Linked DNA regions of Homo sapiens: region 1 is linked to region 2. The links come from fine-mapping of genetic effects on gene expression. A gene starts in region 2. The other region holds a variant in brackets. All regions are shown on one strand. Distances are from middle to middle.

Region 1 (11,979 bases), 81 kb after region 2:
ACCAACATGGAGAAACCCCGTCTCTACTAAAAATACAAAATTAGCTAGGCATGGTGGCACATGCCTGTAATCCCAGCTGCTCGGGAGGCTGAGGCAGGAGAATTGCTTAAACTTGGGAGGCGGAGGTCGCGGTGAGCCGAGATTGCGCCACTGCTCTCCAGGCTGGGCGACAAGAGAGAATCTCCATCTCAAAAAAAAAAAAAAAAAAAGCCTCTTTCTGCTCCAAAAGCTAAGCCATACCCATACCCTTCAGGCATGAGGCCTGCGCTTCTTCCCTCAAGCCAGCTACGGAATAAAAAGTCACTTTCTTTCTACCAGACCTCATTCCTCTGACCTGGACTCTGTGAGCAGCAAGCGACTGACTGAGCGTGCAACGTGGTTACAGCCAAACACAGAGAGTCGGTGGGCAAATGCAGGAACAACGCATCAGCCAGGCGCAGTGGCCACGCCCGGAATCCCAGCACTTTGAGAAGACGAGGCAGGCCGATGGCTTGAGCTCAGGAGTTCAAGACAAGTCTGTGCAACATAGCGGAACTCCGTCTCTACCAAAAATACAAAAAATTAGCCAGCATAGTGGAGCCTGTAGTCCCAGCTACTTGGGAGGCTGAGGCAGGAGAATCCTTTGAACCCGGGAGGCGGAGGTTGTAGTGAGCTGAGATTGTGCCATTGCACTCCAGCCTGGGTGACAGAACAAGACTCTGTCTCTAAAAAAAAAAAAAAAAAGGGAAAGGCAGATTTCAAAAAGGACCTAAGGCTGGGTGTGGTGGCTCATGCCTGTAATCCCAGCACTTTGGGAGGCCAAGGTGGGAGGATCGCTTGAGGTCAGAAGTTTAAGACCAGACGTGCTGATGCGCACCTTTAATCTCAGCTACTCAGGAGGCTGAGGCAGGAGAATCGCTTGAACCTGGGAGGCGGAGGTTGCAGTGAGCTGAGATTGCGCCACTGCACTCCAGCCTGGGTGACGTAGAACCAGGCTCTGTCAAAAAAGAAAGGAAGGGAGGGAGGGAGGAAACCTAAGAGAACTTTGAAAACAAAAAATAGTCGTTGAATTTTTTTTTTTTTTTTTTTTCCTGGGACAGAGTCTTGCTCTGTCGCCCAGGCTGGAGTGCAGTGGTGCGATCTTGGCTCACTGCAATCTCTGCCTCCTCGGTTTAAGTGATTCTCCTGCCTCAGCCTCCCAGGTAGCTGGGATTACAGGTGCAGGCCACCACGCCTGGCCAAGTTTTTATATTTTTAGTAGAGATAGGGTTTCGCTATGTTGGCCAGACTGGTCTCAAACTCCTGACCTCGTGATTCGCCTACCTTGGCCTCCCAAAGTGCTGGGATTACAGGCATGAGCCACTGCACTTGGCTGAAATTTTTAATAAAAGTAGTAGTTTGACAGTTCCTCAAAAAGATAAACATGATTACCACATGACCCAGCAATTCTATTCCAGGCAGTTTCCCAAAGATTTATTTGTTTATTTATTTTTATTTATTTATTATTTGAGATGGAGTCTCACTCTGTCGTCCAGGCTGGAGTGCAGTGGCATGATCTTGGCTCACTGCAACCTCCGCCTCTGGGGTTTAAGTGATTCTCCTGCCTCAGCCTCGCAAATAGCAGGGACTACAGGTGCATGCCACCACGCTCGGCTAATTGTTGTATTTTTTGGTTTAGATGGGGTTTCGCCATTGTTGGCCAGGCTGGTCTTGAAGTCCTGACCTCAGGTGATCCTATCACCTCAGCCTCCTAAAGTGCTGGGATTACAGCCGTGAGCCACCACACCCGTCCTCCCCAAAGATTTAAAAACAGGGGCTCACGCAGATGTTTGTAGATGAATTTTCAGAGAAGTACTTATTTACAACGGCCAGAGGTGGAGATGGCGCAGATGACCCTCAGCTGTCTATGAAGAAACAGCATGTGGCCTGGCCACGTATTACTCAGCCACGGAAAAGGAGGAAGCTGACACAGACATCCACATAGACAAGCCTTGATATCGTGCTAAATGAAGAAGCAAGTCACAAAAGACCCCATGTTATGTGACCGCATGTGTGTGAACTGTCCAGAAGTGGCAAATCCAGAGGCAGAAAGCGGGTGAGCAGTGGCTAGGGCCTGTGTGACAAGGGGAATGGGGCGTCTGTGTGAGGGGTACAGGGTTTGTGGGTGACGGTGACCGTTGCCTGGGGCCGAGGGGAATGGGGCATCTGTGTGAGGGGTACGGGGTTTGTGGGTGACGGTGACCATTGCCTGGGGCCGAGGGGAATGGGGCATCTGTGTGAGGGGTACAAGGTTCGTGGGTGACGGTGACCGTTGCCTGGGGCCGAGGGGAATGGGGCGTCTGTGTGAGGGGTACGGGGTTTGTGGGTGACGGTGACCATTGCCTGTGGCCGAGGGGAATGGGGCATCTGTGTGAGGGGTACAGGGTTTGTGGGTGACGGTGACCGTTGCCTGGGGCCGAGGGGAATGGGGGCGTCTGTGTGAGGGGTACGGGGTTTGTGGGTGACGGTGACCGTTGCCTGGGGCCGAGGGGAATGGGGCGTCTGTGTGAGGGGTACGGGGTTTGTGGGTGACGGTGACCGTTGCCTGGGGCCGAGGGGAATGGGGGCGTCTGTGTGAGGGGTACAGGGTTTGCGGGTGACGGTGACCGTTGCCTGGGGCCGAGGGGAATGGGGGCGTCTGTGTGAGGGGTACGGGGTTTGTGGGTGACGGTGACCGTTGCCTGGGGCTGAGGGGAATGGGGCGTCTGTGTGAGGGGTACGGGGTTTGCGGGTGACGGTGACCGTTGCCTGGGGCCGAGGGGAATGGGGCGTCTGTGTGAGGGGTACGGGGTTTGCTTCTGAAGCGATGAACCATTCTGAAACCAGAAGAGGTGCACAGGTTGTGAAGATGTAGAAAGATTCACGAAGCACGACTGGGCGCTCCAGGCCATTGAGTCACTCATTGTGAAACGGCTGGTTTTATATGTCGTGCATCTTACCCCAATAAAGCATTCGATGAAGCCGACGCTCCGTGGCTCTGATTTGGGGTGCGCTCTCGCCCAGGCTGGTTTCTGTCACCCCCGGAGTTCTGCAGCACCCGTTCTAACCACAGCCCGCCTTCCCTCACTCCTGCTTCAGTCCCGTAAACCTTCTGCAAAATCCTGGCCCTCCAGACCCCAGCTGGGTCCTCCCCTCCAGGCCCCCAGTGGCAGCTGTGCCCCTTGTGTGCCCACGTCGGCCAGCGCAAGCCACACATGGACCCAGTGCCCACTGCACCCCTGCCAGCCTCAGGGTCCCAGCCCGTTGTTCCGGGAGACTTCAGTCCTGGCCCAGGCATCTCCTTCCAGCTCCTGTCCTTATCTTGGTGGCCTCAATGAACGTGCCAAGACCCTTGGGACCCATGGCTCTGAGACTGGGCTCCCCTTGCGCTGCCTGCCTCCCTCCCGGGGTCCCTGTGAAGGAAGCCGTCCCACCCACCCTGCCGGTCCCTCCTCCCTTCGAGCCCTTCACTGGTCTTCACTCCTCATTCCTGGTCCCCTCAGCTACAAAGAGCCTCCTGCTGTGCACGGAGAAAACAATGTGAGCTCCCCCACCCCAATGCCCCTCTGGGCGTCCCCCCCAATCCCCCTGCCAGTATCCCCCCCCACCCCAACCCCCGTCCGGGCATCCCCCTCAATCCTCCCGCCGGTATCCCCCCTCCTCCCCAACCCCCCTCCAGGCGTCCCCCCCAATCCCTCCGCCAGTATCCCCCGCACCCCAACCCCCCTCCGGGCATCCCCCCCAATCCCCCCACCGGTATCTCCCCCACCCCAACCCCCCTCTGGGCGTCCCCCCCGATAACGCCCACCAGTATCCCCCCTCTGGGCATCCCCCCCAATCCCTCCACTGGTTCCCCCCCACCCCAATGCCCCTCTGGGCATCCCCCCAATCCTCCCCACCCGTATCCCCCCTCCTCCCCAACCCCCCTCTGGGCATCCCCCCCAATCCCCCCGCCGGTATCCCCCTTCCTCCCTGCTGGCTGGCATCCCCTGCACTGAGCTGTTGGCTCCACTCACGGCTTCAGTAGTGGGGCTGGGGGGGTCCCATGGGCTCAGCAGCACCAGAAGGCCCCCCCGAGGGGCTGTTAGGATAGGACCACCCTGTTACAACAGGACCATCTTGGGAAGCCGAGGCAGGTGGATTGCTTGAGGTCAGGAGTTCAAGACCAGCCTGGCCAACATGGTGAAACCCTGTCTCTACTAAAAATACAAAAATAGCCAGGCGTGGTGTTGCACACCTATTAATCCCAGTTACTCATGAGGCTGAGGCAAGAGAATCACTTGAATCTGGGAGGCGGAGGTTACAGTGAGTCGAGATCATGCCACTGCACTCCAGCCTGGGTGACAGAGCAAGACTCTGTCTCACACACACACACACACACACACACGAAAAGCCTGGGTGCGGTGGCTCACACCTGTAATCCCAGCACTTTGGGAGGCCGAGGCGGGCGGATTACCTGAGGTCAGGAGTTCGAGAACAGCCTGGCCAACATGGTGAAACTCCGTCTCTACTAAAAATACAAAAAAAAAATTAGTCGGGCGTGGTGGCGCGCGCCTGTAATCCCAGCTACTCCGGAGGCTGAGGCAGGAGAATCCCTTGAACCCGGGAGGCGGAGCTTGCAGTGAGCCGAGATTGCACCACTGCACTCCAGCCTGGGTGACAGAACAAGACTCCTTCTCAAAAAAAAAAAAAAAAAAAAAAAAGACAGGAACACCCCACCACAGGCTGCTGGGCAGTGGGGCTGGGAAGGGCCCAATGAACCAGGGGAGCCCCACTCTGGGAGTGCGCCTACTCCAGGCCCTCACCCCGCCCCAGCCCTGCCTCCTCCTCCTGCCCGTCTCCCAGGCTGCTCTCACCCGCCCGGTGTGCTGGCTCCTCTCTCACGTTAGAGGAACACCTAAGCCCTCCCAGACGGCCAACAGTCCCATTGCCCCCTTTATACTGCAGACCGCCCCAAGGAGTTCTCCAAAATCCTGGTCTTCATCTCCCTCCTCTGGGGGCACCCGGCGTCTGTGCCACCATATGGGGGTCCCCAAGACCTCCATGTGCAGCCGGCTCTAGGGTTGGGCTTCTCCTCAGCACCCAGGACCCCCAAGGACCCCATCTTCAAGGCTCCTGGCCCACCCAGGGCCACTGGGCATGTGGCATTCGCCAGCTTGCTGGAATCCGGGAATGTGATGGAGGCGCGAGGAGGAGGTGAGAGCACGAGGAGGAGGTGAGGGCGCAGGGAGGAGGTGGGAGCACGCAGAGGAGGTGAGGACGCGGGGAGGAGGTGAGGACGCGGGGAGGAGGTGAGGGCGCGGGGAGGAGGTGAGGGCGCGCGGAGGAGGTGAGGGCGCGCGGTGGAGGTCAGGGCGGCGGTGGAGGTCAGGGCGGCGGTGGAGGTGAGGGCGCGGGGAGGAGGTGAGGGCGCGGGGAGGAGGTGGGAGCATGCGGAGGAGGTGAGGGCGCGCGGAGGAGGTGAGGGCACAGACACAGGCCCACCCCATGAAGATGAAATGCCTGACGGCCTCATGGCTGTCAGCGGAGCCCGGAGCAGATCTCAGCCCTGTCTGTGTATAAACAAGCGCTGCTCCAAGGAGACGCCAGGACGAATGTCAGGACATAGGGAGGAAAGGACAGTGGAATCCCACAACTCAGACACGTGGGGGGCGGGGGGCAGAGGGCGGGACCCGGGGAGGCTCACACCACACACGCAGGTGCCAAAGAGCGAGGAAGACTGAGCGTCACAGACGAAGGTCCGACAAGAGAGCCTGGAAATGGAACGGCAGAGGGAAATCTCAAAAGCAAGGACAGAGATTCACAAGCTGGAGGCCCAAGAAGCCACCGAGCTGATGGACAAACGAAAGCTGGCAGAGGTGGGTGCAGGAGAGAGGCAGACACAGGAGCAGGCAGCGCCAGGGCTGGGGTCAGAGGGCATCCCCCGGGCCTGCAGGGGTGACCTCAGGCCAGTGGATGTGGCACTCAGAGGAGCTGGGCTGGGGTTGGAGGGCGTCCCCCGGACCTGCAGGAGCGACCTCGGGCCAGAGGACGCGGCACTCAGGACTTGGCAGCTTCCTGTGCACAGGCCATTGCCACTAAGGAGCCGGAATCCGCGTCTGCCCCCACAGGGGGCCGGCCCTCCCTCTGTAGCCTCTCCCCTGGCCTCTCCCGCCCAGCCTCCTGCCCTGCTCAAGTCCCACCCCTTCCTAAGGCCTCCCTGTCCTGGACACCTGCCCCAGTGGCCACCCGGGCCTGGGTGCTCTGGCGGTGGCAGGACGGGGCCTCAGGCCTGGCAGTGCTGGCGACAGCTGTGTCCCTGCAGGTGAGTGGCCCCTGCGCCTCCCAGAGGTGACCTCAGAGGGGCTGCTGGGGCCAGGCAGTGCCTTTACCACCCTGGGGACTTGAGGAGGACCGCCCCCTGCCCCACACAGGCCACCCTGGAGGCGGTCTGGGGCAGCAGCTGTGCAGGACCCTGTGGCCGTGGGGGGCTGTGCAGCTTCCTGACCAGGGAGGCCTCCTGTTAGGCCAGTCTCTGCCCAACAGTCAGTTCTGCTGGCTGTGACTTGGCACGTGGTGGCTGCCACGTCCACTCACCTGCTTCCGCTCCCGCGTGGACCACAGGGTCTGCAGGGCCTGCAGGAGCAGGAGGGGGTCC[C/T]GGCCTGTGGAGATAAGATAACAGCCGTGGGAGGGAGAGGCAGGTGCAGGGGCTATCGCACAGCCCGCCGGGAAGTCCCTCCCACTGACCCGCAATGCCTGGGGCTCCTCTGGACCCGGGGGGCCGGGAACCCTCCCCCACCTCTGTCTGGCACACACACAACACACCTGCCAGCTGCGGCAGCACCCACCCTGTTCCTTCCCTGTGGCCCGTGGCCGCCCATCCAGCTGAGTCCGCCCAGCAGCACTTCAACCACGCTCAGCCCTGGGAGCTGGGCCTCATCTTTCAGCTGCAGGTGCAGAGCAGCCCTCGTGGGCCTGAGCCTCTACCTGCTCCGCCTGGCGCCCTCGGCAACCTCATCAGCATCTTCTCACCCAAACCCTGCACCGCAGTCCTGGCACCACGAGGACCCCAAGCCCCTGCCCTCTTTAGGTTTCGGTCCCCGGCCCTCCCGCGCCGCCCCCTCCCTCCAGCCCCGCCTGGGAGGCCCCCGACCTCACTGCAGCAAAAGTGCCAACCAAAGACGCTGCCCCACACGGACAGGGCCACCAGAGCGAGACCCGAGGGAGGTTTCCAGACAGAACCCAGGGGCTGCGTGGCTTGGCTTGGAGGCCGGTGGTGCAGGGGAGTGGAGACCCACTCAGGCCTGGTCATGTGGTAGGGTCAGGGTCGGAGGCCAGGGAGGGGCAGGTGCCAGCAGGGACTCCACAGGGGAGGCCTGAGGACAGGAGCCTGGGTGGATTCCGCAGTGAACTCCCCCTGGACCTGGGGGGCTGTGGAAGCTGCTGGGCCCCCCTGCAGGGCAGGACGGGAACAGGGAAGGCCCCGTGTTGCTGCGAGGGAGGCTGAGGACTCACATGAGATCAGATCAGACCTCAGCAGCTGGATTCTGCCACACACGCCAGAGAAGCGTGTGTGACGGGGGTCACCCCAGAGAGCCAGGCTGACTTAACAGGAGAGTCCAAGGTTATGATTCAGCCCAGGACCGGAACGGAGGAGAGAACCACGTGGCCCTTTCGGTAGACACAGAGCAAGTGTTCTAAAATTCAGTTCAGCTCACAATTTAAGAAATAACTCACCTGGGACGGGCAGGGAGCGCCCTGAACTGGGTAAAAGCCATGGGCGAGCGTGAGACGTGGTGCTCAGGGCAGCACGTAAGGATGCCACAGCCCGGCCTGGAGCCGTCCCAAGCAGGTGGCATCCAATGCAGAAGGAAAACAGAAACATCAGGACCGGCCGACAATGTGATTGATTACACAGAAAGCCACGAAGGATCAAAACTACGCCGTTAGAATTAACCAATGGGTTCGGCATCAATGCTCAGCACAAGCCAAAATGAGAAAATCAGCAATAAACAGAAATGGCCATTTCAAAAATCACTTACAACAGCATCAGCAATGTCAGATTCCCTGGGAGAAATGTAACAAAAGCAGCTCATGCAAAACAAAACCCAGCCGGCTGTCATCTCAGCACTTTGGGAGGCCGAGGCAGGTGGATCATTTGAGGTCAGGAGTTCGAGACCAGCCTGGCCAACGTGGTGAGACACTATCTCTACTAAAACTACAAAAGCTAGCTGGGCATGGTGGCGGGTGCCTGTAGTCCCAGCTACTCGGGAGGCTGAGGCAGGAGAACAGCATGAACCCGGGAGGCGGAGGTCGCAGTGAGCCGAGATCGGGCCACTGCACTCCAGCCTGGGCAACAGAGCGAGACTCCGTCTCAGACAAAAACCAAAAAACCATAAAACACCGTGGGGCGCCCAGGCTCCACCATGGCGTCTCTGCAGCCACCTGGGCCTGGGTGGCACAGGCCAGTGTTCCCGTCTGCGCTCAGAACCGTCCCACCATCGTGCACAGTGTGCTGCATACAGAGGCTGAGAACACTCAAATGTCCACTGTAGGAGGACGGAGCAAGTGCATCAGCCCCGGGACGATGCCCAGGTGGGGAGGACGTACCCCACCACGTGGCCATGGCAGGCAGTGTGACTGGCCCCGCATTCTGGGTGCTGCATGCTGGGCATGGCTGGCGATGGGGCCAGGGTGGGCTGGGCGGGGCGTGCTGTGGTGTGTTCACGATCATGTGCCGAGCCGCATCATGTGCTCTGCGTTCCTTCCTACACATGGGTTGCACTTCACAATAAACAAAAGAGACTTTTATTTTGTTATTTAAGTTAATATTTTATTTAGAGACGGAGTCTCACTGTCACCCAGGCTGGAGTGCAGTGCTGTGATCTCGGCTCACTGCAACCTCCACCTCTCAGGTTCGTGATTCTCGTGCCTCAGCCTCCGGAGTAGCTGGGAGTACAGGCGCTCACCGCTACGCCTGGCTAATTTTTGTATTTTTAGTAGAGACGGGTTTTCACCATGTTGGCCAGGCTGGTCTTGAACTCCTGAGCTCAATTGGTCCGTCCACCTCGGCCTCCCAAAGTGCTGGGATGACAGGCGTGAGCCACCGCGCCCAGCCCAGATTTTCTTTTAAAGCAGAGTTTCAGATGCGTGAGATGAGAAGGTTCTGCAGGTGGACGGTGGTGGCAGCTGTGCAGCCACATGAGTGCCCTTAATGCCACTGAGTGTACACAGGAAAGTGGTTAAAATGGTAAATTTCATGTTATGTATATTTCACATATTTTTAAAAGCAGGGTGAAGCTGGGCAAGGTGGCTTACACTTGTAATCCCAGCACTTTGGGAGGCTGAGGTGGGTGGGTCGCTTGAGCCCTGGAGTTTGAGACCAGCCTGGGCAAGACAGCAAGACCCCATCTCTACCAAAATAAATAAAATTAGCTGGGCATGGTGGCGCTCCTGAGGTCCCAGCCACTTGGGAGGCTGGGGTGGGAGCATGGCTGGAGCCTGGGAGGTTGAGGCTGCAGTGAGCCCTGATTGTGCCACTGCCCTCCAGCCTGGGGGACAGAGTGAGAACCTGTCAATCAATCCATCCATCAATAAGCAGGGTGTCCTTATTATTCTTTTTAAGTTCTCCAAATCGAGATCCACCTTTCCAGGTGGGAAGTTGGTGATGCCGGCCCTCCTACTCCCCAGTCAGTGTTGCTGGTCTTTGCCCTGCTCAGGTCCTGCTGGTTCTGCCCTCCAGGTGGGCAGGGTCTGCCCCCTCCCACCGACCTGGGCCACTCCAGATTCCCAGGGGACTCCCTGCCTTGACGCTGTGCCCTCAGACAACACCCAGCCGCGCAACACGGCACAGCCCTAGCATCCTACAGAAATATGGGGCAGGCCAGGCCACTTTATGGACTCCACCGTGGCCCCTCAGCCTTGAGAGTCAAAGCCAGGGCCCACCACATCCTCCCAGCCTCCAACCTCCGTGTACCTGGACCCTGCCCCTTGGGCCTGAGGCTGCTTCTCGAGCACCCAGCAGCCTGCCCGGAAGCCCCCTCAGCACCCCTGCTCCCTGCCTGCCTCCCTCAGCACCCCTGCTCCCTGCCTGGCCCCCTCAGCACACCTGCTCCCTGCCTGCCTCCCTCAGCACCCCTGCTCCCTGCCTGGCCCCCTCAGCACCCCTGCTCCCTGCCTGGCCCCCTCAGCACCCCTGCTCCCTGCCTGCCTCCCTCAGCACCCCTGCTCCCTGCCTGCCTCCCTCAGCACCCCTGCTCCCTGCCTGCCTCCCTCAGCACCCCCGCTCCCTGCCTGGCCCCCTCAGCACCCCTGCTCCCTGCCTGCCTCCCTCAGCACCCCTGCTCCGTGCTTGGCCCCCGGCCCTTGCTTCCTGCCTGGCCCCCGGCCCCTACTCCTTGTCTGCCTCCCTCAGCGCCTCTGTTCCCTGCCTGGCCCTCGGCCCCCGCTCCCTGCCTGGCCCCCGGCCCCTGCCCTTCTGCCCCTGTCGCTTCACTGTGGCCTCAACGCTGAGCCCCAGGGCAGTGACCGCCTGGGTCTCCTTCCAGGCCATGGCCGGTGCACGATGGACACTCCACGGTGCCCGCCCCAGCCATTCCAGGGCCAGCCGTGCACACATGGTGCTCACAGCCCACGCAACTGGGGAGCCCTGGGGAGCCCTGAGTCTCTCGGGCCAGAGCTGGAGGGACCCATGGCAGGTGTGGCGGGACAAGTGTCTGCCGTGCCGGGCTCAGACACGGCCATGCTGACACTCATCCCACACAATTGCTGGCTTCCTGTTCATACAACAGAAGAAAAACAGGATGTCCAGGGGCGGCTTCTGTCTGAACGAAGAAGACAAGCGAGCTCTGTGAGCCCCAGGGCTCAGCAGTGAGAGGACAGGGTGCCTGGGAGAGCCCTGGGGGACACACCCCACTCAGCACACAGCACCCCACGCACCCCAACTCAGGGATACCACGCAGGGGCACGGGGTCCGAGAAGGGCGGGTGGGGCTTGGAGCTGACACCGAGGGACCTCCCAGACCCGCTCTCCGGCCCCAGAAGCCCCAGCCAGCCCTCCCTGAGGTCGCCTCCTCGTGCAGTAGCTTCTGGGGGCCTTTGGTCCCCAGCGTGGATGTTTGGCCGGAGCTCCGTGGGTGGCCTCTGGCCCCCACCTCCACACCCAGGCCCAAGTTCCCTGAATTCGCCAAGTTCATCAGTGCTGCACCGATGCCTGGGACCTGCAGACAGGCAGGTCTAGGACGCTGAGACAGATGGCCCTGGCCAGGAGGCTGGGCCCTGACCCTGGACCCTGCCCCTTGGAACCATGTGGGTGGGGGCAGAGCGGGGCAGCTGTGTATTAGGAGGACACCTAGAAAAAACTCAAGCTCAAGAATAAAAGTCCCACAGTCCCCCGAATGTGGATTCACATCCAAGAGCTGGGCTGCTTCTCTCTGGGGGGCTGAATCATGGTCCCTGCCCAGCACCAGAGCCTGGTGCCCACACTGGCTTCCCCCCCAGCCACCCTCCCCAAAACGTGCCTGGGAGGGCTCAGGAACTCTGTGGGGTTGGCCTGAGGGTGTCCAGGCAGAGGCGGCCAGGACGGCTCCACCATCTGTCCCCAGGACGGCTCCCCAGCTGACACCCCCGCGCCGGCCGACGGGAGGACGGATGGTTGCAGGGACGCAGGATGGGCAGAACACAGGGACGCCACTTCCTCCAAACGACACCCGGCTAATGGGGCTGCCTTCACCTTGAGACACAGACGCACGCGGGAAACTGTGGGCTGTGGAGTGGGTGGCGCCGAAGGCTCTGTTATTCCCGACACTCTACCATAAAGCGGGGATGAGAAACACAGGGGGCTTTTTATCCACAGGGTTGGGGGCACAGAAGCCCCAGGAACTGAGGCCGACCCCAGCAGCGGGCGCCAGGCAGAGGACACCAGGCAGCGGATGCTGGCAGGGGACACCCGGCCTCCAGGCAGGAAGTCTGTGACGTGGTCTTCACAAAGCCCCCGAGTGGGTCT
Region 2 (11,979 bases):
GAGGGGCTGGCAGGAAGACTCGGGGCCCGCGGAGGTCCGGGGCAGGGCGGAGTGCGGGGTGCACGCGCTGGAGCGCGGCCGGGCCCGAGGCGCAGTGCGGGCGGCGGCCACAGGGCGGCAGCACAGCCGCGGCGGCTCCGAGGCTCGGGAACCCGGGGGCTCCGGCCCTTGCGCCCGGGCGAGGTCGGTGGGAGCCCCGGGCGCGCCCCCTCCCCTGCCTCGCATGCCCCCGCGGACCGGGCCGGGGCGGGCGGGGTGTCTCCGGCGAGGTCCGCGCTGGGTCGGACCCCCCTCCCCACCTGCGCCGGGCGCACTCTAGCCCCACGCGCGGCGGCGTCTGGTGGGCGGGGCGGGGTCCCCAGGACGAGCCGCGCGTCCCAGGCCGCGACCCCAGCGCTGGGGCGAGTGGGTGCGCGGCGCTGCGAGCCGGGTGCGCCCCCTCGGCCCGGCCCTCGGCTCTGCCCTCGCCCCTCGCGGTGCGGGCGCTTTCCGGGTGCGCAGGCGCCCCGCCCCCACCGTCCCCGCCGTCCCCACCGTCCCCGCCGTCCCCGCCTGGCGCGCTGGGGACCGGAATGGCCCGGCTGGTTTTGAATGTAGAGATCGGGCTTTGTGAGCGGCTGCCCCCACCCCCACATGCCCCCCACGGCCCGGCTCCCTCCCCCCGCACCCCGGCCCCAGCCCCCCGCCCTCATTAGCATAGCAGCTGCTCGCCGAGCCGGACGGCGCGGAGGAAAGGGCAGAGGCCTCGGGAATGAATGGGGGCCGCGGCTTTGGAGGGGCGAGAGAAGAAAGACCGACAGACGGACGCGCGGAGGACGGTCGGAAGGACGGCCCGGCAGAAGAATGCGCCGGACGGGTGTTGGGAGTTTCCAGCGGGGGGAGCGGCTCCGGGCGGTGGAGCCTGAGTGTGCGGGGGTGGGTGGAGGGCGGCCTCCCGGGGACCTCCAAGCCCCGGAGGGTCTGCACTGGAGGCCCTGGAAGCAGCAGTTGCGGAGGTTCCCAGACCTTCCACGGCCCCTCCCGTGTTCCAAGCCGTCGCATCCCGGCCTCAGGCTTCCTTCCCCAGGTGTCCCTGGCGCGGGGCCTCCTTTCCCGTCCTTCAAGGCCCAGGTGGACGCTGCCTCCTCCCCGCAGGCTCAGGGAGCTTCAGGGGCAGCTGGCCTTACCGATGTCGGAGGCTCTGTGCGCCGGGTGTTCTAGTGTCCACGACCCCTCTGTCCCAACCTGTGCTGAGCTATGAGGCCTTTGGGGGACAGACCCCAGCGGGCAGCTCCTTCCCGCTCTTCCTTCCCTGCACCCGTCTCCCTGGCTTCTAAGTCCTGTCCACCCTCCTCTGGCCTGCTGTGTCCTGGCTCCCACGCCTGCTGGCTTCAGACATCACTCTTTCTAGCTGACCATCTTCCTGCATTTCCTGGTCTTTCCGTGGCGTCTGTTCCAACGTCAGTGCTTCCTGCCTCCAGCCGGGGTCAGATCAGAGACAGACAGTTGGACGGGAGCCCAGCAGTCCTGGCGGGGGATGTGGGGCAGGCCCTGACCTTGCCGGGACTGTCTCCTTTCTCTCAGGGGTTCCCAGGGACCCAGCCCCCACCTGCCAGCCCCTCCACCGTGGCTGTCCTCCGTGCCTCTCGGCCGGACACCTCACCTGGCCTCCAAGGCACACCTGCAGATCTGGGAGGCCGGGGCTGACGGTGTAGGCTGGGCCACCCAGACCTTCTTTCTCACCCTGGCCACAAAGGGGCCTGCCTGGGGAGGGGGGTTGGGGACTCCCCAGTAACTCTGCCATAGGCCAGTACCCACCATAGCTGCTAATACCTACCAACACCCTGCTGCAGTAAGTGACCTGCTGAACACAGAAGCACTGGAAGAAGCGTGTGCACAGGCCCCTGAACTCAGGAGGGAAACAGGCATCAGAGACACATAGCAGCATCGACCTGGCCATACCCAGAGACCAGGTACTTCCTCCTTTTTGCCCATACCCCAGAGCTGCCCCCCCCTCCCCTTGTGGCCAGGGAGGCCCACTCTTGGCGCACAGGTGGCCAGCCTCCCCCTCCACTGAGCTGCTTCTAGGAATGTGCTACCCCGGGCTTCCTAACAAGGACAAGCCTGTAGGCTGTGCTCAGCGTCCCCGGACCGTCCTCCTGGGCTCTCAACACCTGGACCCTCCCAGCTGAGATTTCATTCATAAATCTGACCCCCAGAGGTGGGAAGAAAATTGTGGTTTTAGAGAGTGTGTCTACCTGCCCCTAGGGCTGTGCCTGGTTTTAGAGTGTGTCTACCCGCCCCCTAGGGCTGTGCCTGGTTTTAGAGTGTGTGTCTACCCGCCCCCTAGGGCTGTGCCTGGTTTTAGAGTGTGTGTCTACCTGCCCCCTAGGGCTGTGCCTGGTTTTAGAGTGTGTGTCTACCTGCCCCCTAGGGCTGTGCCTGGTTTTAGAGTGTGTGTCTACCTGCCCCCTAGGGCTGTGCCTGGTTTTAGAGTGTGTCTCTACCTGCTCCCTAGGGCTGTGCCTGGTTTTAGAGTGTGTGTCTACCTGCTCCCTAGGGCTGTGCCTGGTTTTAGAGTGTGTGTCTACCTGCTCCCTAGGGCTGTGCCTGGTTTTAGAGTGTGTCTACCTGCCCCCTAGGGCTGTGCCTGGTTTTAGAGTGTGTCTACCTGCTCCCTAGGGCTGTGCCTGGTCTTAGAGTGTGTGTCTACCTGCCCCCTAGGGCTGTGCCTGGCAAGAAAGGTCAGCGAGGCTGTCCCCAGTCATCCGGGCCGGTCAGTGTACACAGCGACACCTGGGGAGGAAGCAGACCCCCTCCAGGGCTCCACCCTCTCAGCCCTCCTCTCCTCAGCTGCCCACAGGGCTGCCCGGGCAGGCTTCCTTTTGTTCCTGCGCGAGAGAAGAGCAGCACAAGGCCTTTCTCAGTCAAATGTATCTTTCAGAAGACAGAATTTAAGGGAGCTGCAAAGAGTACCCTGGGGTGGCAGCCATGTGCCTGGGAGGCCCCTGGTGCCAGGCCAGGCCTCTCCGCAGTGGGAGAACTTCCCGGATATTGCAGGGGCAAGCAATTGGCTGGGACCCCACCCACCTGCAGGCTAATGCCAGTAACAAATGTTACCTTTGTTCTTCAGACCCTGGGTGGGGAAGGGTGGAGTGGTCCAGCATAGCCCTGGCCATCACTGGGGCTGCCTGACCTCATTCTCTGGTTACCCCAATCGTGTCCAGGTTCTTGTGGCCACTCTCCTTTCCAACGGCTGGGCATTCCCGGGCTGGCCCAGGGCAAGACTTCCCAAAGCCTGCTTCAGGGAGCTGGCCCATCTCCCAGGCCGATTCTGCAGGATAGGAAATGCGTAACCGACGGAAAACGCGCCTGGAAAACCAAGGGTAAACAGGGCGGCAGTGCAGAGTAGGAAGGCGGAGGCGTGGGGAAAGTTTGTGGGAAGGGCAGCCCTTCTGCGGACACGGTTTAGGGAAGCAGATTCCCCTTACATTCGGCAGAGGGGTTTGAAAAGTTGTTACCTTGTAACTCCCGGTCTTTGCCCTTCTCCAAGTTCTCTCTGCTGGCTGCTCTTGCTGGGGGCGGGTGTGCTCCCTTGCAGCCCGGTACAGGGCCCCCAGGGCCCCAAGGGCATCTCAGGAGTGGACCAAGAGTCTCTGCTCCTTTCTGTCAGGTGCCAGCAACAGCCATCCTGCTCTGCTCTCCTTTCTTGCGAATGGGAGTGCCCGGCCCCGATGCTCGTCTAACTCAGGGTCTGTGCTCTTTGGGGTGTTTTGACTCCAGGCCTGTGCAGGCCTCCAAAGCTCCCGGGTGCCTCCAGGGGACTTTCTACCTGCCAGGAGTGAGCAGCTATGGGATTTCCCCCCAATTTACAAGATACACTTTCTGTGCAGCAGGCAGCCTCCAGCATGACCCCCTAGCGGGTCAGAGTGGGCAGGGCTTCAGGCCGAACTCTCCTCTCCAGCGGAGGTCTCAGCTGCTTTGCTGGGGAACAGAGCAGAGGCTGTGACACCAGCTCTGGGCACGCTGGAGGTGCTGGGTCCTCGTGAGTCCTGTGTGCAGCCGGGTTGGGCTTGGCCGTTGCGTGGGGCTGGGAGCGAGTTTACCAGGCTCTGTCTTCAGACAAATACAAGCCAAGCATTGTGCACCCAGCACCCACAAACCGTGTCACAGCCTGACCCTCGTCCCCAGAGAGGGTGTTCTGCAACTTGTGCCAAAGCCAAGAAGGACCAAGAAACTTTTTTTTAATATAAAAAGATCAATGAAAAATTTATTTATAAATTTTTCACGCTGGGCTACAGGTCAATATCGTACACTCAGGAATGTGCTGCACAAACTTTATCCAGTTAGCAGTGATCACCCCGTGACCCACACACAGCTTCGATATAAGCCTAGAAAGTCTTAACATTAATTAACATAATTAAAAAGGTATTTGCATCTAGAAAAAATATACAGAAGAACTCCTTGTGGAGTAATCTGTGCCTCCATTTCAATGTCTGCTTGTTTCACTGACATTATCAATATATTCTTCTCACACAAAGTTTTATAAAAAGCGACGGAGGGCTGCCCGAATACGACCAGCCACGCACAAAGGGCCTCCACCCACCTGTGTCCTCAAGTGCTCCCCATTTCTGCACGAAGGGTCAGCAGCACTTCCATGAAGGGGAAACCTCATTTAAATTTGAATAATTCAGCCTCCCTTTTATTTCTCAGGATCAAAACAACAAGGGGTGTGGGGCTGCATAGAAAATTGGAGCCACAGAAACCAGGAAGGGCGCCTTTCAGGACAGAAAGTGACGCAGGAGAACCTCCCCGGGCCCAGGTCTCGACGCAACCCCTCCCCCACGGCAGGATTTCGGGTTCGAATTGAGTCCTCGAAGCTCTGGGAGGCTAAAAAGGGGCAAAACGATCCTTCAATTAACTCAGCCATTAGCACAAGAGATTCACAGTCTTATAGGTATTTTATAAAAATATAAATATGGGTACACTCTGTTGCCTTCACAACGCTGGATACATCGCCCTTTAAAATTGGGTTTATAACCAAGATTCAAAAAATACACCTAAAACTTGGCTTAAAATATGTTAATATTTTATATTCTGTCATAAATGTTATGACATTTAATTGTGGCAAATCCATTTACTTTTTTTAAAAAAGTGTGCAACCGTTAACTATGATAGAACGCACTAGAAAAGGTAACGAACCTTCACCCACCCCCCCGTGTCCCCGCCACCCTCGAGCGCCAGCGAGCTTCCAGGATCCTGGGGAAACTGCAAAACAAGCCGGTTTGGGGGATGGTGGCCTCATCCAGGAGGGGCGGGGGAGAGAGGCCCTGGGGCTTCCAAAACTCACGGATTTGAGGGAGAGGGAGAAGGAGGGAGGGGGAACAGAACGGGGTGGGGAGGTAGACGCGGGGAGAAGGGAAGGGGGAGGGACAGCACGGGAACACCATCAGGCTGGGCGGTATTTTCAGTGCAACCAAGAAATGGTAGACTCAAGTTTTTAGTTTTAAGACTAGAAAAAAATGCATCACTCCCCCCCATAACCACATTGACCACGCAGTGTTTTCCAAACAAAAAAACCAGGCGCACAAACTCCACCCACAAATGTACACACACAAGATAAATAGTTTAGAACACCAGCAACAGCGAACAGCCGAGCGTCTCCTCGGCCGCGCGCCAGCGGCGCGGACCTCGGACCTCGGGGCTGCTCCTCGGCTGCAGCCGGCATCGGCGCGTCCCGGGCCTGCGGGCGGGTCCTGAAGGCGGCGGCGGAGCGCTCCGAGTCCGCCTTCGGCTCCCGCCGCCCGCCTTTCACCTTCGGGAGAAAACATTTTGCGCAGAGGATCCGGTATCTCGGGATTCCGAACTTGCTGGTTGCGAGACTCAAATTTCAAAAGGGGCTGGAGCCCGCGCCCCGCCCCCACCCGCGAGGCGGCGGGCAGGCGAGCGGGTGGGGGCCGTGGGAAGCTGCTCCGGCCCGGCCGGGCCCGGCTAGGCCGCAGGGAGGCGCTCGGCCGGCGGGGCTGCCGGACCCTGGGGCCGGGACGCACGCGCCGTATTCGCCGTGGCCACGGGCCTTCTGGCGGGGCCTGCGAGCCGGGCGCGCACCGAGGTAGTTGGCGGGAAGGTACAGCAGAGACGACGCGGGCGCAGGGCCGGGGTCCGGGGTCCCGGCGGGCATCACCGGCCGCTGGCCGCGTACTTCGCCTTGGTGATGAGATAGAGCACGATGTCCTGGTGGCCACCGAACGCGGCGATGTGCAGCGCGCTCCAGCCGTCGCGGTTGGCCAGGCGGATGTCGGCGCCGAACTTGACCAGCAGCTTCACGAGCTCCAGGTTGCCGTCGATGACCGACTGGTGCAGCGCCGTCTGGCCCTCGGGCCCGAACGAGTTCACGTTGAACTCGCAGTTGGTCATGTTCTGCAGCAGCGACTGCAGCTCCTGCGTGTTGCCCTTGCGCACAGCCTCCTGGAAGATGCGCTGCGTCTGCGGCGCGGAGCAGGTGGACAGCTCGGCCTGGCTCATGCTGCCGCCGGGCGCGGGCCGCGGGCCGGGCCGGGGCTCAGCGCGGGCGGCGGCTGCGGCGCGGGCCCCCGGCTGTCTCGGGGCGCGCCTCGGCGCATGGAGGGCGCGGCGTCCCCGGGCCCCGCACGCCGCCTCTGGGCGCTCCGGGCGCTCGGGGCCGGGGGTCGCCGCCGCGGGGACCCCGCCGCATCCAGCCGCGCCCGGGTGGGCGACGGGGGCGCGCGCTCGGCTCGCGGGGGCCGGGCCCGGCCGGGGACGGCGGCGCCGCGCGGTCCCGGTCCCTACTCGGTTCGGCTGCGGCTCCCACGCGGTCCCAAGGCGCCTCCCCACGCGCCGCAGCACTAGCTCGCCCGCCGCGCCGGGGCGCCTTTTACCTTCTTTATATTTGCATAACAATGGCAGCCCGTGACGCGCGCGCCGGCGGCCCCGGGATTGGGCCGCGCCCACATGGGGGCGGGGCGTGGGCGGTGCCGTGCGCAGGGGTCCGGGGGCGGGTCCCGGCGGCGGCGCGCTTCGCGGCAGGGGGCGCTGGTCGCCGGCAGCGCCTGGGCGGGGGAGGCCAGGTGGCCGCCGGGGGGGTCCAGCTCCGTCGCCGCCGCCGTCCGCGCGCCCCCCGGGCGCTCCGCGTCTCTTTGCGGTCGTCCCGCCCCTTCTCCCTCCGGCCACCCGGGGAATTCCAAGCTCCCTCAGCAGCCAGACCCAGGCCTTGCCCGGTACCCGAGCGCGACCGCCAGGTGGCCCCGAGGGCGGCCTCTCCCGGGCAGGGGGTTCGCGGGCATCTCAGGCCCGTGGCGAAGGAGAGACCCCTCTGAGCGGAGAGGCGCGCGGCGACCCCGGCCAGCCCGCGCCTCCGGGCTCACCGTCCACGCGGGTGGCAACTCCAGGCCCTGACGTGGGGCCTTCAGCCACGCGGGTCCTTCCCGCGCGCGGGCAGCCTCATGGCCGCCGGCTCAGCCTATGTGTGCCCCAACCGTACTGATGCGAGGGGCCTCCGGCCGGCCACCGCGGCTTCTATCGCCTGGCGGTGAAGGGGGTTCCGCTGTCCTCTCGGGAGGAAGCCCCGGGCCGGGGCGCAGCGGGAGGGTCGGGACCGCGGCCTGCCTCCCTCTGCTGCCCACGCACCAGCATGCGGGACACATAGGTCCTGCCCAGGTGAGCAGGGCTAGGTGTGGCGCCAGGGCCAGAAGGGAATTCTGAAACGCCTGGCTTCCAAACTGTAAAACCCATTTTTATTGACCACTCTAACAATTGACCGGGAGGCACTAGCAGGGGAAGCACAGCGCATTTCCTCATTAGAGTTTTACAGTTTACAACTCGCTGTGGTCGTTGGAAATTAAGGAGGAGTGATTCTCAGGCGCGGAGCAGGAGGCCAGGCAGGCTGGGGCTTGAATTCCTTCTGAAGCCAAGCCGGGAATTCCGCGCAGGCAGCTCTGAGCTCGGGCTGGGGAGACCCCCATGCCAGGCCTTGTCTGAGGAGGCTTCCGCCCACCAGCTCCATGTCCCCACATCCGGCTCCCCACAGGGGTGTGTCCCCACCCCATGCTGTGCCCATACTGGCAGGAAAAACTGGGCAGGCTCCCTTCGGGACAGACCCTGGCTGACCGGAGCAGGGTCCTGAGGCCCTGGGGTCCTCCTGGTGGGCTGGGAACCTCTGTCCCTCAAAGGCACAGCTCAGAGCTCGCTCTGGTCTTCCTGGGGCCGTGATCCCGCTGGTTCTGTTCAGCTCTCTCCTTTGGGCCTCACTGCTTCTCCCAGGAGCTCTCAAGGGGGCCACGGAGGGTGGAGGGGTGCTCCCCAATATGCAGGTGAGGACACAGTGGAGTCCCGGAGTAGGCCCCCAGCAGAACAGAGATGGGCGCTGTGGAGCCCAGGCCCGGGGCAGGGATGGCATGGCCTGGCCTGCCGTGCTCTGCTGGGCACCTTTGGCCTCTTAAGGAGGGGGAGCCGCTGGGCTGCCTGCTGGTCCCTGGTGCTGGCTGTGTCTCTGGACCTCAGACCAGGGCTGGGTGTGCAGGGTGCTCTGAGCTCACTGTCAGGAGGGCAGGAGCTCTGTCCTGGGCATTGATGGATTTTGTGCATATGCCCAGGGCCCAGCCAGGCTAGACTGGCAAGAGGCAGAGGGCATGACTGGGGGGTGGGCAGAGCCCTTGGTGCTCAACAGGCACAGGGCCTCCCCTGGAGGGTGGGTGGTTTGCAAACAGGCCGAAGCCCAGGTGGGCTCAAGCCGGGCCTGGAGAAGGCATTTGGCTATGCTGTGGGCCAGGAGCAGGGCCTGGGAGAAAGTGCCGTCGGCATCCGTGGCGGCGGCAAACAAAGGGGCCCTGTGTGAGCTCGGTGTGGGAACGCGGGGCCCCGCCACGGGCGTGAAATCGGCAGCGGCCCCTGGCGAGGGCCAGGCGGTGCGGGCGCCCCGGCAGGCACAGTGAGGCTGGTGTGGCGGCCCTGCAGGGCGGGAACCTACCCCCTGCCCGGGGTCCAGAGCGGGGTCAGGCAGAGGTGGTGGGGCCTGCCACGGCAGTGTGGCTGTGGCCCAAGGCAGGTACCCAGGCTCATCTGTGGGACTCAGAGGCTGGCCACACCACACTGCCCACAGGGAGTTCGCTGAGTGGCCCTGGCTCCTGCTCCTCCACCGTGGCTCCCAGCTCCCCTGGGCACACCCACGGCCCTGAAGCTGCTCCATTTGAGGATGGGAAGGGGGGAGGGGCCGGGGGGGCAACAGCTCTGAGTCAGCACTTCCCGAATGTTTGCTGAGGGACATCCAAAAGGTGGACATCTGTTCCAAATGCTGGGACACGGGGGTCCACCTCCAGCCACCCAGTACTTGTGCTCGAGAGGACCCCCTGGTGTTTGCCGGTGTTGCTTGGAGCCTTCTGCTGTCTGGGAGGCCCTGCCCTGGGACCTGGCAACAGGCTCAGCTCCGACTGTGCAGCTGGGCCCTGTCCTTCCTCCCCTGCCTGTCCTGAGGATGCTGGCCCCGGGGGTGCCCTGCCTGTAACCCACCTGCCCCCAGAAGGCAATGGTGGGGCCCCTTCTCTTTGCATGCACCCCCTTTCCTTCCTTCCCTGGAGGCTCAGAGCAGTGGGCAACATGGGGAGGGAGGTCTGTGCGGGGTGGCCGGCCCGCCTGGGAGGGCCCAGGGAGGACAGCGCAGAAGGGGCAGCTGGCCAGAGCTGGGCCGAGGCCTGCGGCCACCTTAAAGGCGCTAAGCAGGGAGGGAGGGTGGCGGGCAGTGGGGGCGGGGCTTCCAGCTAATTCATTAAAATGTGTCGGGAGCGTGGGAAAGAGGAGAGTGTTTCTTCCCAGCAGCCCAGACACCTGGTAGAAGGGCTGAGAGGATCGAGATCAAATAACAAACACTCAGCCCGGGCCAGCACAGGCCGCGGCGGAGGAAGGACGCCCGGGCAGGAACTGCCGCAGACAATCCCTGCAACCGGTGGCTCCTGCCCGCCGGGATGGCTGCTCAAGGCATGGCCTGGCACTGGCAGCCTCGGCCACCCGGTCAGCCTGGTGTCTGTCCCCTAGCCCAGGAAGCAGCCTGATGGGTGCTGACCCCAGTGACCGAGGCGTGCTTCCAGCACCTGGACCAGGATGGGAACTGGGCAGAGAGCCTCACCCCCACCAAAGCCTGGGCCTGGGATGGACGCCGCAGAGCCAGGCCGAGCCTATGCTGGGTAGTGAGGGACGTGTGGAGGCGGGAAACACATATGGCACAGCACGGCCATGGCGGAAAGTGAGGGCGGGTGGAGGCGGGGCCAGCCGGGAGGGACGGAGGATGTGTGGTTCTGTCTCCTTGCGGCCTCTGCACCACTCTGCCTCCCTCTGCCGAGAGCCAGCAGCAGCACTTGGGCCTGTGTTGGGAGCAGGATGCAGCCAGGCCGGGTGGAGGGTGGGTGCCCTCAGCCACTCCCTCTTAAACCCTGCCAGGCAGGAGTTCGGTCCGGGGCTGCCTCCCCAGGACAGGAATGTGGAGCTGGGGTTCCCCTCCCGGAAGCAGATCCCGGTCCCAGAAGGCCCTGACCCTCTCCTGGGGTGCTGCTCTGCTCACCCTGGTGCCCCCACCTGACTCTCAGGCTCACGCCCTGCGGCTGCCCAGCAGGTCAAGGGGGCAGGTCAAAACTCGAGTTGGCTCTGACACAGGCCAGGCCCTCCCCGTCTCAGCCTCCCCCTCCCCATCTGTGAAATGACACCCCTGCTGGGGTTGCTGGGGGCTGAAGGGGTTGGGCTGCAGTCCTTAGGGGTACCCAGGGGCAGTGGCCAGCCCTGGTGTGGTCGGGACCCACAGGGAGGCCCCGACTGGGCCAGTCCAGGGATGCCCAAGGCCTTCGCACCCGAAGCCTGCTCCTTACTCTGGGCAGAGGCGGCTGCTTCTCCCCAGCCCGCCCCCAGGCCCCTGCTGCCCGAGGCTTCCGCCCACCTCCTCGGCCAAATCTGAGCTGATTTCCGCTCCAGGCAGGAAGCAGAGGAAAAGGATGTGGGTGAGGGGAGGGGGTACATTCCTGGGATGGTCCCTCCCCGGGCTTCTCCTCCTCTCCCACCTCTGGGACCCCCTGCCCTCCCTGCTCCACCTGACAGAGCACCCTCGGACCCTCAGGGTGGGCAGCAGTGGCCGCCTGGGCCTCAGCCTCCTCCCAGACAGGGGCAGCAGCAGCTACGTCCAGGCAGCTGTGAGGACGGAGACGTTGGCGTCCACGTGTGCAGAGCCCTGGCCATGGCCGGCTGCCCAGGTGCCTCTAGTGGGGGCTGTGGCTGCTGCTCTCCCGTGGGAATCACGCAGCCCTGACGGGGGTGATGGAGAGACCTCGTGGGTCCCACCAGGCTCGGGGTCCCAGCATCCTGACCATCTGGAAACCCTGTCTTCCCCCGACAGCGGCTCGGGCTGGGACCCCGCCTTGGTGTTCCCAGCGCTTGCTGGCACAAAGGGGCCCACGAGGGGTTTGTGGGGCGAGCATGAAACATGTGAGCCAGTCCACGGCCATGGGCCCAGCAGTCGGGCACTTTCCATGTTTATTGTCTGGCTGTCCTCAGAAGGGACTGCTGGCCGGGCTGGGGGCTGGGCTCGGCTCGCAGGGGCTGGGGGCGCTCTCCAGCATGTCTCGGAAGTGGGTGGCAACACGACCCAGGTGGGAGCCGTCCCAGAAGACCTTTCCACAGCCCGTGCAGCAGTAGAAGCACCGCAGCCCAGGTGTCCTCAGCACACCCACCGGGACCCCTGCCAGCTGCAGCCGGGTGCCGTCGGCCAGCATGTCCGGTGTCTCCGCCCGCAGGTCAGCCATCTGCAGCCAGCGGCAGGGGCGGTCATAGGTGCAGCCCTCAGGGGCTGCGTCTGGGGCTGGGCCTGGACAGATAGAAGTGGACTCCCTGAGCCCTCAGCCTTCGGGCACGGCCCCCAGGCTGCTCCCAGAGTGGTGCAGTTGGCGGCCCACGCTGAGCCCACGCTCACTCCTCAGCAGCTCCTCTTTCTGCTCCCTATCCGCT

What was found. PIP is the estimated chance that this variant, and not a neighbour inherited with it, causes the effect.
Region 1: its variant is fine-mapped to the expression of NRARP in whole blood (INTERVAL, PIP above 0.99).

What each region holds. Positions count from the first base shown.
Region 1 is chr9:137,376,740-137,388,718 of GRCh38, forward strand. EXD3 (exonuclease 3'-5' domain containing 3) reads right to left here. Exons shown (of 22, transcript NM_017820.5): 3 at 6,574-6,638. Among named protein-coding and RNA genes, the nearest start is that of EXD3, 40 kb to the right of the region's middle. The variant C/T (reference allele first, on the strand shown) is at 6,635.
Region 2 is chr9:137,295,425-137,307,403 of GRCh38, forward strand. NRARP (NOTCH regulated ankyrin repeat protein) reads right to left here and starts at 6,847. Exons shown (of 1, transcript NM_001004354.3): 1 at 4,207-6,847. The coding sequence starts at 6,504. The coding sequence ends at 6,160. It overlaps EXD3 (exonuclease 3'-5' domain containing 3), which reads right to left. Exons shown (of 22, transcript NM_017820.5): 22 at 11,472-11,839. The coding sequence ends at 11,526. RefSeq lists silencers at 1-231, 5,705-5,754, 5,875-5,934, 6,005-6,084, 6,767-7,406 and enhancers at 1,145-1,812, 3,453-4,346, 6,146-7,064, 11,653-11,979.